2 separate regions of the Homo sapiens genome follow, and region 2 is linked to region 1. Evidence: fine-mapped expression QTL. A gene starts in region 1. The other region holds a variant in brackets. All regions are shown on one strand. Distances are from middle to middle.

Region 1 (5,377 bases):
TAACTATTTAAATTAAATACAATGACATAAAATTTAAAAATCTGTTCTTTAGTTGCGCTAGCTACATTTCAACGGCTCAATAGCCACATGGAGCCAGTGGCTTCTGTATTGGACAGAATGGATAGCAACTATTTCCATCATTCTAGAAAGTTCTATTGGAGCATTCATCTCGAGCTTTCTGCTTATAGTTGTCTGACTTGTGCCCTCAGATGGAAACTTAATGCTGCTTCCTTGGGGAATTTATTACATTGGTTGTGGAAGGCATTTACCGAGTATTTTAATGCATTTTTAAAAAGCCCTTGCTTGACTCCAAATGATTTTAATTAAGGGATCTTTTCAGTAGAATTACTTGAAATTCCACTCCTCCACGTTTTTTTTTTTTTGTTTGTTTGTTTTTTTTTTTTTGAGACAGAGTCTTGCTCTATCACCCAGGCTAGAGTGCAGTGGCACAATCTCGGCTCACTACAACCGCTGCCTCTTGGGTTCAAGTGATTCTTGTGCCTCAGCTTCCTGAGTAGCTAGGACTACAGGTGTGCACCACCACACCTGGCTAATTTTTATGCTTTTGGTAGAGATGAGGTTTTGCTATATTGGCCAGGCTGGTCTTGAACTCCTGGCCTCAAGTGATCCTCCCACCTCCCGCCCAAAGTGCTGGGATTACAGGCGAGAGCCTCTGCGCTCGGCCTTTGAAATTCCATCCCTTTAAAATGGCAAGGGGGTGTGGGGGAAGAAACCCAATTCCATCTCCTCTGTTGAAGGCCATCCTGAAGCCTCCCCTACTGACTCCAGGTACCACTGACCACACCTCCTTGACTGCCCAGAACCATGAACACCACTCTGGTAACATTTCATTCTCAATATAGATAATTAATTAACAATACATTACAGATAAACTCAGGGGCATATAATCTTGTGTCCCTTGTGCCTCCTAGGTAGCAGGTTCAATCCCTGGTGCTGAGCTAGGACACCCAGACCATGGCATCCCTGGTGTCAGCCCCATGATGCAGAGGGCTAGCAATGTCCTGCCTCCTCAAGAATGACAGACTCACCAATATAGAACATGTATGTCTCTTTCACAAAAGCCAAGAGGAGGGCTCCTGACCCAAAGGAGACCATCCCAATCATGATCATGGTGGTGTCCCGAAAGCAGCGGGAGAAGACCAGGACACCCAGGAAGCTGGTGATGAAGATGGTGTACCCTGCAGCCATACCATAGCCCACCTGCACTTGGTTCCAACCGAGAGGCTCCCTCAGCACAAAAAGAGGGATCACGTCCACTGTGCCCACCACCGCCAGGTCATATATGATAGCACCCACAAAGAGCAAGGCAATGGTGGTTTTATGGGGTTTTGCTTTTCCAGGAGATGGAGGGTGCCCCACTGCATACTGTTGGTCCAACTGATCAGGATCCAGAGTGCGGTATGTGCCAACCGTGCCAGACACGGTATCCACGGCGGGGAGCTCCTGGCTGGGTTTGGCCACCGACTCAGGGACCTTTAGCACCAAAAGGCTGTAGAGCAGGGCAAACGAGGCACAGCTCACGCTGCAGGCCGTCAGTATCAGGCCCTGCCCAGAGTGCCCAGCCATCTGCTTGAAGAGATGCCCGGAAGCCATGCTCCCGCAGAACCCCGCCAAGCCCAGCATCAGGTCAATGAGGATGAGGCGCACAGAGCGGCGGCCCTCGGAGGAGCCCAGCGATCCCAGCGCCATGACCCCGGACCAGAAGGCGGAGAAGCCGCCGAATAGCCCGTTCAGCGCCGCCGCCCCGTACAGCACCTCCACTGGCCAGTCCAGCAGCACCTTGAGCAGCAGCCCGAGGCGGGAGAGCAGGAAGCCCAGCAGCGACATGCAGATGGAGATCTTTCGGTGGTAGCGGTCGCTGAGCCATCCCAGCCCGTAGGCGGACAGCAGGGGGGACAGGCCCACCACAAGGTTGTAGATAATGTAGAAATTGGAGATGGCTCTCTGCTGTTGGTCCTCTAGAGCCCCCCGGGGCGATGGGCTGGCACTGTGGTTGGAGGAGCCTCCGGTTCCGTAGGACGCCTTCACCACGAGGAGTAGCCCCGCATCGTAGAGGGAGGCAGCCACCTGGGACGAGGCCACCACGGGCTCAACCCAGGTCCTCGGGTGGAAGCGAGGCAGGTGGCCCCTCCGCGGGCAGGTGACCTCGGGGCTCATGTGACCTCTCTGATGGGGATCGAAGGGCTTTCTGGCTGCAGTGACAAGGATATGCTCCCAAATTCGGCTGCTACGGCTGCTCAGGTTTCAGTCCCGGAGCGCGAGTGTGCTCCGTGCGCCGGGAGCGCGAGTGTGCTCCGTGCGCCGGGAGCGCGCCGGCCAGTGGCGAGCAGAGCCAGGGCACGCAGCGCCTGTGACAGCAGCCCGCCCAGCAGCCGAGTGACCTCCCGAGTGACTCCTCCTCAGGCCAGAAAAGGCCGCGCTCCACCCTGCCCTCGCCACCTCAGGCAGAGTAGGACTGGCGACAGTCCAGGGAAGCCAGGCGCGGGGGAGCGCACCGCGAGTGCTGGCTCCTGGCGCCAGCACCCCCGGGGCCGACGGGTCACGCTGCTCCTGTGAGCGCGGCCGCCTGACGGGGCCGAATTTCCCCACAGCCAGGCGTGCGTGCCCGGACCTCCCGCGGATCTCTGCGGACCCCCCACCACCGGGGCAGGGGCTGGAAGGAAGCTCCCCAGGACTGGCTCAGGGAGCGTTTCCAAATTCTCCCATCCCAGGAAGGCAGGTTTGCGCGAGGGGTGGGACGCCTAGGATTCTGCCTAGGATAAGTATTGGGGTGTGAAGTTTTATTTATAGATTTAATGCAACAGGGGCCCATGTGCTATAGGCAGCTGGGTAGCACTTTGAGAGAAGTAAAAACTTGGGAGCCGCCAGGTCCAGGCTCTTCTCCAAGCCAAAGGCCTCTTAGAGAAGAGTCCTGTTTGGTACACCTGCATTGGTGGGCCTAGTGCCTGGGCCTTGTCTAGAAGGCTCCTGCCCCAAACCCCAGGGCCAAGGGAGAGACGGCAAGATCCTGCCAGCCCTAGATGTCCCCCTAGATGATAAAACTGGACTCTTGGGCAGGGGCTTGAGCCCACTGGAAGGGGCAGAGTCACCAGGGTCCTCATCTGAATCAAGTGCCCAGGTCCCTTTCTGCTTGTTAGTAGTCACTCTTCTTCTGTCTGTGGGCTCACTCCCCTGGGCTGGGCTGAGACCTCCACTTCCCAGGTGGCCTCGCTTCTTGTTTAGGTACATACTTCTGCAAAGAAAACCAGGGTGATGGATGGTGCAGGGGCCAAAATGTACCACAGAGCATGACCTGTTCCATGGTCAGCCCCAGGGATGGAGACTCAAAGCACACAGCCTTCCTGTCCCTCTACCCACAATCCACTATAGCTCTGGCAGCGTGGATGATCAGGAACCCAAAGACATGAAAGGGAGACGCAGGTATGCAGGGAGAGCTTAAAATGCCACATGGATAATATACTCATGTAGGGAGTAGGGACTGGATTCCAAATGATTTAGTGTATCTATGTGCTCTTTTGGTAGTGTTTAGGTGGGCTATAATCTCCTCCCCTGCCACCCTCAACCTCCAGCATGGCCCAGCCTCCTCGTGTCTAGGCCCAGACGACTCTGCCTTCTGCAAAGAGAAAGACACACCTAGTCTTGCCCTTCAAGATGTGCCCCATGGATCTGGCCCAGCAGCCCATTTCCTTCTTCCTCCCCCTCACCTAGGGTCACCTTGGGAGATACATGTTTCACCCAACCCAAGCCTGGCTCTCCCACTCCATTCTTAATTTTTCCAGAGGCTACAGCAAACAGTCCAAACACCTTGATCCTATGAGGGGTGGAGACTCCAGTGAATGAGTAGGTTATGGGGCCAGGTGGTATTCCACAATCAAATATGGCCATGAGAACAACCTGACCCAGATGGACCACTCTGGCCACTTGATCAAGGAGTCTGTGCATTCTAGGGCTCTAGACTGTAGGGGGCAGCCCTTGTCATCTCTGGGAGGGTCTGTGGTATTTCAGTTCTTCCCATTGTCTTGGGAAACCAGGGACATTTGAAGGGTCTCTGAGAGAGTCACATCAGATCTAGAACAGATCTAGTAGGAGCTGGGTTATTAGGATGCTAGTCAGCCCTAGGAACCCCCAGGCTTCTGAGTTCTCTGGCCTGGAAATGAACAAGACTCAGGGTAGTCAGTGTCTCTCCCAGTTTAGGCTACTGTGGGTTGGATTATATTCTCATCATGTCCCCACTTCTTGCTCCATCTCTGAATGCAGGCCCCAGGTGAGCTAGCACCTGGTCATCCTCTGCAGCCCAGGCTACCAGCAAGTAGAGCCCTGACCTTGCCACTTCAAGATAGAATCTAGTCTCCAGTGCAAGGTTGGCTTCATTAAAGTGCAAGTACTAAATCTCTGATGTTTAGATTGATAAAATCACACTATTCCAGAAGAAAGGAACTAAGAAAAAAAACAGTAGCAACTAATATTTTTTGAGCCCTTATTATGTACTAAGCATTTTACGTGAATGAATTTAATCCTCCCGAGAAGTCTGTGAGCTGATCTATCACCCCATTTTTACAGACTGAGATACTGAAACCAGAGAGGTTAGGAAATTTGCACAAGATCACAAGGCCAGTAAATCAGGAAACTAGTATTTGGCATCAGACAGTCTTTGCAAGCCTACAGCTATGGGGAAAATACAGTTGCCAGAAATTTTTATTTGAGGATGTCCTCTTAACCCACATTGGAATGTGGAGAGGAGTAGAAACAACACAATCATGTTGTGATTATTGTTGATCAACAATGTATTGCATAAATAGGAACAAGAGAGTGGATAGATTATCTGTTGAACCTATATCCCAGGCACTTTACACTCAGGCAAGGAATACTTTTGTTTTCTTAACAAAATTCATAGCCCCTAAATTCATCTTAGAAAGGAACAGTCTTTGAAAAACACCTTTGGTCAGTGTTAGAGAGTGAAATTCTCAGGTCTGAGGATTCCAGCTGTGGAGGAGGTTCCAGAGAGGGGGCGGAACCTTTATGCTTGAGTCAACGAGAGGGAAGGGTGAGAGAGAGAACCAAGGAGGGAGAAGAGAGGGGAAAGAAGTTCAGGGAGGAAGTAAGATCAGCAGGTATTGGTGAGAAGGGTCAGGACTAGAACTCTTGGCGTCAGGGTGGTCTGAAGGAACTTTTGAAGAATAAGAATGTCTAGTGTGGATTTTAAACATCTTACTGTATCATGTACATGTGAATCCTTAGTGTGACCTCCCTTTGCTCCTCAGTTCTTAATTTCTTTTTCTTTCTTTTTTTCTTTTCTTTCTTTTTTTTTTTTAGACAGGGTCTTGCTTCTGTTGCTCAGGCTGGAGTGCAGTGTTGC
Region 2 (5,377 bases), 39 kb before region 1:
TTAAATTCAAATGAGTAACATTGAATAAAAATGTAAATCCAGTTCCCCAGTCCTGCTAGCTTTGTTTCATGTGCTCAGTAGGCACGTGGAGGCAGTGGCTCCTGGGTTAGTGTAGATTATAAAACGTTTCCATTATAGCAGAAAGTTCCATTGAACAGCACTGTAAATATTCCTACTCAAAGATGAATGAGTGTGGGGAGGGAATGTCAGGGCACTTAGGAGACAGCTGAGTGGCAATTGACGAAAAATTATTGCAATTTTAACCTCATTTTCATTTCATGATAAAACACTTCCTAAAGCAAACTTTTCAGAGGAAGACTTGAGGTTTCCGGTATTGACACATTCCATTAGAAGGTTGAACCCACAACACTCTCAACTCTTCAGTTGCCTGTCACCTTTAGCACAGGCAGGGATATGGGGTGCCCGTGCTTAGCCAAGGAGTGACTCCTTCCTGCCTTGACTCCTCACGCTGCTGGAAGGTCCCCTGTGGGGAAAGTGCATGATTAGAAACTTTCATAGCAATTTATTTCTTTTGAGTTAGTGGAAAAGAAAGGTCTCATCACTCTTGGTTTGCCACTTGTGATTCTATTAAAGGAAGAAGAAAGAAACTCGTTGATGAAACAGACACCTTTCTAGAAGGTCTACTGCAAGCTTTTCTGTTTTGCTTGGTGGGTTCATAGCAGCAGAGCTTGGACTAAGTGAGGGGAGCCCCAGGCACAGATTTACAGGGCATTCACTGTCAGGTGCCAACCTTGTACTCACATGGGCCAAAGAGGGAGTGTCTCCTTACATTTTGCACCCCGGGTGCCTAGCTTGCCTCACTCCTGTCCCATCCAGGGCTGGCTCTCTTGGGGCCCATTGAGCCTTCACTCTGGTGGGCTGGCTGCATGGTTCTAGGAATTCTGGACTTGCACAGGTATAGCCCCTTTAGCACATACAGGCGCATACTGTGTCTGAGCCTCTGTCACACTGAACCTCTCAGGTAGGGAGTGCATCTCTCTGCTCTTTCTATACCTGGACCAGAGTAGAGGACTAGTAAGTGGCTAATGAATGAATCATTGAACAGATCAGTCCACTAGGGGTCCAGTCAGTGAATTAAAGAGTGAAGAGTTCTCTTAGACTTTAAGATTTCAGAGAACATCCAGTGTTGTAGCCTGCAAAGCTCCGCATTTCTGCACAGCCGGGCTCTGGCTGCACACAGTGACGCGGAGAGTCCTCCCAGCAGCGTGACAATGGATGGGTGCTGTTTCCTCCACTTGCCTTTCCCTAGAATTTCTTTCCTTTCAGCGTCAGGTTTTAGTTACTTTACTAGAAACTCCAGCATCAGGAGTGGTTCTCCTCTCTTCCCTCCTTTCTCCTGCTTCCTCCAGAGTTTCTGCCATGGCCAGACTGTCCTAGGAGCACATGGCTGGGCCTGGGGTAGGCCTTGATTTGGGGAGGCGTGGGGGAAAAGAAGCAATTGCCTGGGGGTGGGAGGCCCCTTTGTGGACTCAGTGTTACATGCTTCTCTCCTCTGCCTCCCACAGAGTGTATTGAAGAAGAGGGACCAAGTTCAAGCAGAGTATGAAGCCAAACTGGAAGCTGTGGCTCTGCGGAAGGAAGACCGCCCCAAGGTCAGGGAAGCCACCTGGGAAGGGCTGCAAAGCTGTAGTCTCCCTGCTGGTGCTAAGTAAATTCTCATCTCTAGATCTGTATGACTAAGAGTGGTCAGTGCCGGCTGGGCTACGTTGATGATGTTGTCCTTTTTCACTCCCTTTTCTGTCCTATTTCTGCGAGTTCCTAGTGTTCACTTGGGATTGAGTTTTCCACTGTTTCCTGGGCCTAATTTTTGGTTTTTTAAAGACTTAACAGCTCTGCCATTCATCGGCAGTTCCTTGCTCCATAAAATGGCATTGCAGAGAGAAGGAAAGAATAGCCTAAATCAGTGCTTTCAAAGTGTGGTTCATAGGCCCACAAACTATACAATCCATGATGAGGAAAGTATAGAAGCACTTGGAAACTTCTATAGGAATTTGATGTTGCTGCAGAACCAGTTGAACACATTGTGTTGAACACTCAAGGCGAGCGTGTTAAACTCGCGTGAGGAGTTGCATGTGGAGCAAGCTGCGTGCTGGTTCTGCACGGCAGGACTACAGCTTGGTCGAATTGGGGGAAAAAAGCCAACAAAAAGTGGCCCTTTACTCCACAGAGTTCGAGCAGCACTAATCTTGCTTGTCTAGGATGCCTTCTGGCTCCAGTGTTTGTAACTGCTCGGTAGGTTCACCT[C/T]ACCTGCTGCCTAGACAGAGCTGATTTATCAGGACAAAGGAATTGTAATGGAGAAAGAGTAATTCGTGCAGAACTAGCTTACTGGACACTGGAGTTTTACTGTTATTCAAATCATTCTCCCTGAGCATTTGGGGATCAGAGTTTTTAAAGATAATTTGGTGGGTAGGGGCTTAGGAAGTGAGGAGTGCTGATTGGTCAGGTAGGAGATGGAATCATAGCGGGTGGAAGTGAGGTTTTCTTGCTGTGTCTTCTGCTCCTGGGTGGGATTGCAGAACTGGTTGAGCCAGATTACCACCTTTTTACATTTGTGGGCTAAATGCAGACTTTTAAAATATATACAAACAAATCATCCTATGTCATCCCTTTAAATCCCTTTGTTGAAAGGAAACTTTTAAAATATACACAAATAAATCATCCTATGTCATCCCTTTAAGTGAGACTGAGACATGGCTCAGCAGATGGCACCATGTTCCAGAAGATCACAGGCCAGCTCGGAACTCGTCAGTGGGGCTGGCCATAGGCAGGCCTCCTCTTACTGGGGAGGTTGAGGTGGGAGGATCCCTTGAGGCCAGGAGTTAGAGGCTGCAGTGTGTTATGATTGCGCCTGTGAATGGCCACTGCACCCCAGCCTGGGCAGCATAGGGAGACCCTATCTTAAAAAAAAAAGGTTTTGGATTTTGGGGCATTTTGGGTTTTCAGACTGGGGACGCCCAACCTGTGTAACAATGATTTACAAGGTATTTATGTTGTATTAGGTATTATAAGTAATCTAGAGATGATTTAAAGTATACAGGAGGCTGTGCATCAGTTATATGTAAACACTACATGATTTTATGTAAGGGACTTGAACATTCACAGATTTTGATATCTCAGAAGTCCTGGAACTGATCCCCACCCCACCCCACCAGATAGCGAGGCGACAACTGTGTGTATGTATATGTGCATGTATGTGTAAAATTTCATTGATTCCATACCACAACCATGAGGTTTAGGTACCATTATTATCCCCATTTGAGAGATGAGCAAACCAAGGCCCACTGTCACACAGCTAGCACTGGTAGAGCTAGGATGGTACCCTGCAGTTTGACTTTAGAATTTTGCTACCTACCATTACATCACTCTGTCTCTTTTTGGTTTGTAAGTGGAACGTGTATTTGTTTTCAAAGAGAGGGGTAAGAGTGAGGAACGTTAGTAAGATAATAGCAGGGACTTGCATTTCAGGGAAATGGTTTGACATCAGAGCTGCTGGGGATTTCCTCCTTTGCCATGGTTCCTGCCGCTGCCGCCATGCCAAGACATACCTGGAAAGGAACCAGCTTTGGAATTTGAAACCCACACCTCAGAAATGACACACCTTGGCTTTTTGTAGTGTCCTTAATGTTAATTGCATCACAGGATCACTGCAGTGGTCATCTGAGGCCCGGGGGAAGGCATTGTTCTTTCCCCGTTTCGTGGGTGAGGAAATGAGGCACAAAGGAGCTGGACAAATTGCCCAGCCTCTTTGATGCCGAGTGGCTCTCCATCCTGTGCATGTTTGTTGTGTTGATTCCAGCAGGATCACCCCTAGTGATCTACACCAGAGCGTAAAGGCTGCATGTATCTATGGAAAGGCAGATGATGAGGATTGGAACTGTAGTCACTGGCCCAGCGTATGCAGCTGGCACCCTCCCTCTGGTTCCTCCTGCCACAGGCTGTCAGCCTTTTTCCATCCTGTGTGTCTGTCACAAGGGAGGCGACAACAGAAATGCAGAGCCATGTGCACACAGCTGCCCTCTGTCTGCCTATGGCCGGCCCCACTGACGAGTTCTGAGCTGGCCTGTGATCTTCTGGAACATGGTGCCATCTACTGAAGCCATGTCTCAGTCTCATTTAAAGGAATGACATAGGATGATTTATTTGTGTATATTTTTAAAGTTTCCTTTCAACAAAGGGATTTAAAGGGATGACATAGGATGATTTATTTGTATATATTTTAAAAGTTTGCATTTAGCCAGCAAATGTAAAGATAGAAGTCATTCACAGAAAACAAATAACTGCATGATTTGACTTATATGTGGAATCTAACAAAGTTGAAGTCATAGAAACAGAGAGTAGAACGGTGGTTGCCGGGACTCAGGATGGGGAAATCGTGGTCAAAAGGTACAAACTTTCAGTTACAAGGTGAACAAAATCCTGGGGCTTCCATGCAAAATGTGGGTGGTGATGGATGTGTTCATTAATTCGATTGTGATCGTCACTACACAGTGTGTACATGTATCAAATCATCACGTCATACGCCTGAAATGTATGTAATTTTATGTGTCAGTTAAATATTTAAGGAAAAATAGAAGTCACTTTTTCTGGCTAGGGAAGGAAGGAGAACCAACAAGTTCTGCCACTGGCCTAGTTTGGAAACCGAGGATCCTGCATTTTAAAGACGTCATGTATGTAGTTCTGTAAATAGCATCTGTACAAGCTCAGCACTGAATACGAGCTTTCTCAGAGGCTGATGCTGTCATTTAATATGTTCATCCCTATACAGGACACATTCCTTTCCAAAGCCAGGAGCTGAAGGTTCGGAATAATAGGCTGAGTTAAGTCTTAACCCTGCCTGGCTTGCTGGCTGCTGGAAGCACACACCAGGCTTGGAGCAGTCTCGAGCAGAGGGAGACGCTGGTTTTGTGCCCTCAGACCCCCACAGCTGCCTGCCAGGGCTCCTGGCCTCACATTCCTGCGGGTCTGGGTGATTCCTGTCCACTCCCCGTGCTGTGGAAATCTTTGGCTGCTGCTGTTGTCCGCCTTCCTGGACACTACTTACCCACATGGCTCATCCTCTCGGCCACAGGAATTCTTACCAGAGGCTAAGGGTTTGCCCCAGTCCGTGAAAATGACTAGTCCGTCCTGAACACACATCTGCGATCTCTTAGCACACTGTGGCTGGGCCATCTTCACCTTCCCTCTTCCTGGTGGGATGTTGAACCATGCCACATTCACTTTGCTGCTTCTTTAGCAATTGTGATTTTTAAAGACAAAATAGACTGTCCTGGTGGTGTGCCAGTGAATGTAATGTAACAGTGGCAGCAGCAGAAATCCTTTGCTGCCTTTGGGTCTGGGGCAGCAGCTGCGTTGGTGG

What was found. PIP is the estimated chance that this variant, and not a neighbour inherited with it, causes the effect. A credible set is the group of variants that fine-mapping cannot tell apart.
Region 2: its variant is the best candidate, but not a certain one, in a credible set for the expression of SLC46A2 in cerebellum (GTEx, PIP 0.88).

The regions. Positions count from the first base shown.
Region 1 is chr9:112,888,504-112,893,880 of GRCh38, forward strand. SLC46A2 (solute carrier family 46 member 2) reads right to left here and starts at 2,373. Exons shown (of 4, transcript NM_033051.4): 1 at 1,050-2,373. The coding sequence starts at 2,178.
Region 2 is chr9:112,849,333-112,854,709 of GRCh38, forward strand. SNX30 (sorting nexin family member 30) reads left to right here. Exons shown (of 9, transcript NM_001012994.2): 7 at 1,527-1,613. Among named protein-coding and RNA genes, the nearest start is that of SLC46A2, 39 kb to the right of the region's middle. The variant C/T (reference allele first, on the strand shown) is at 2,266.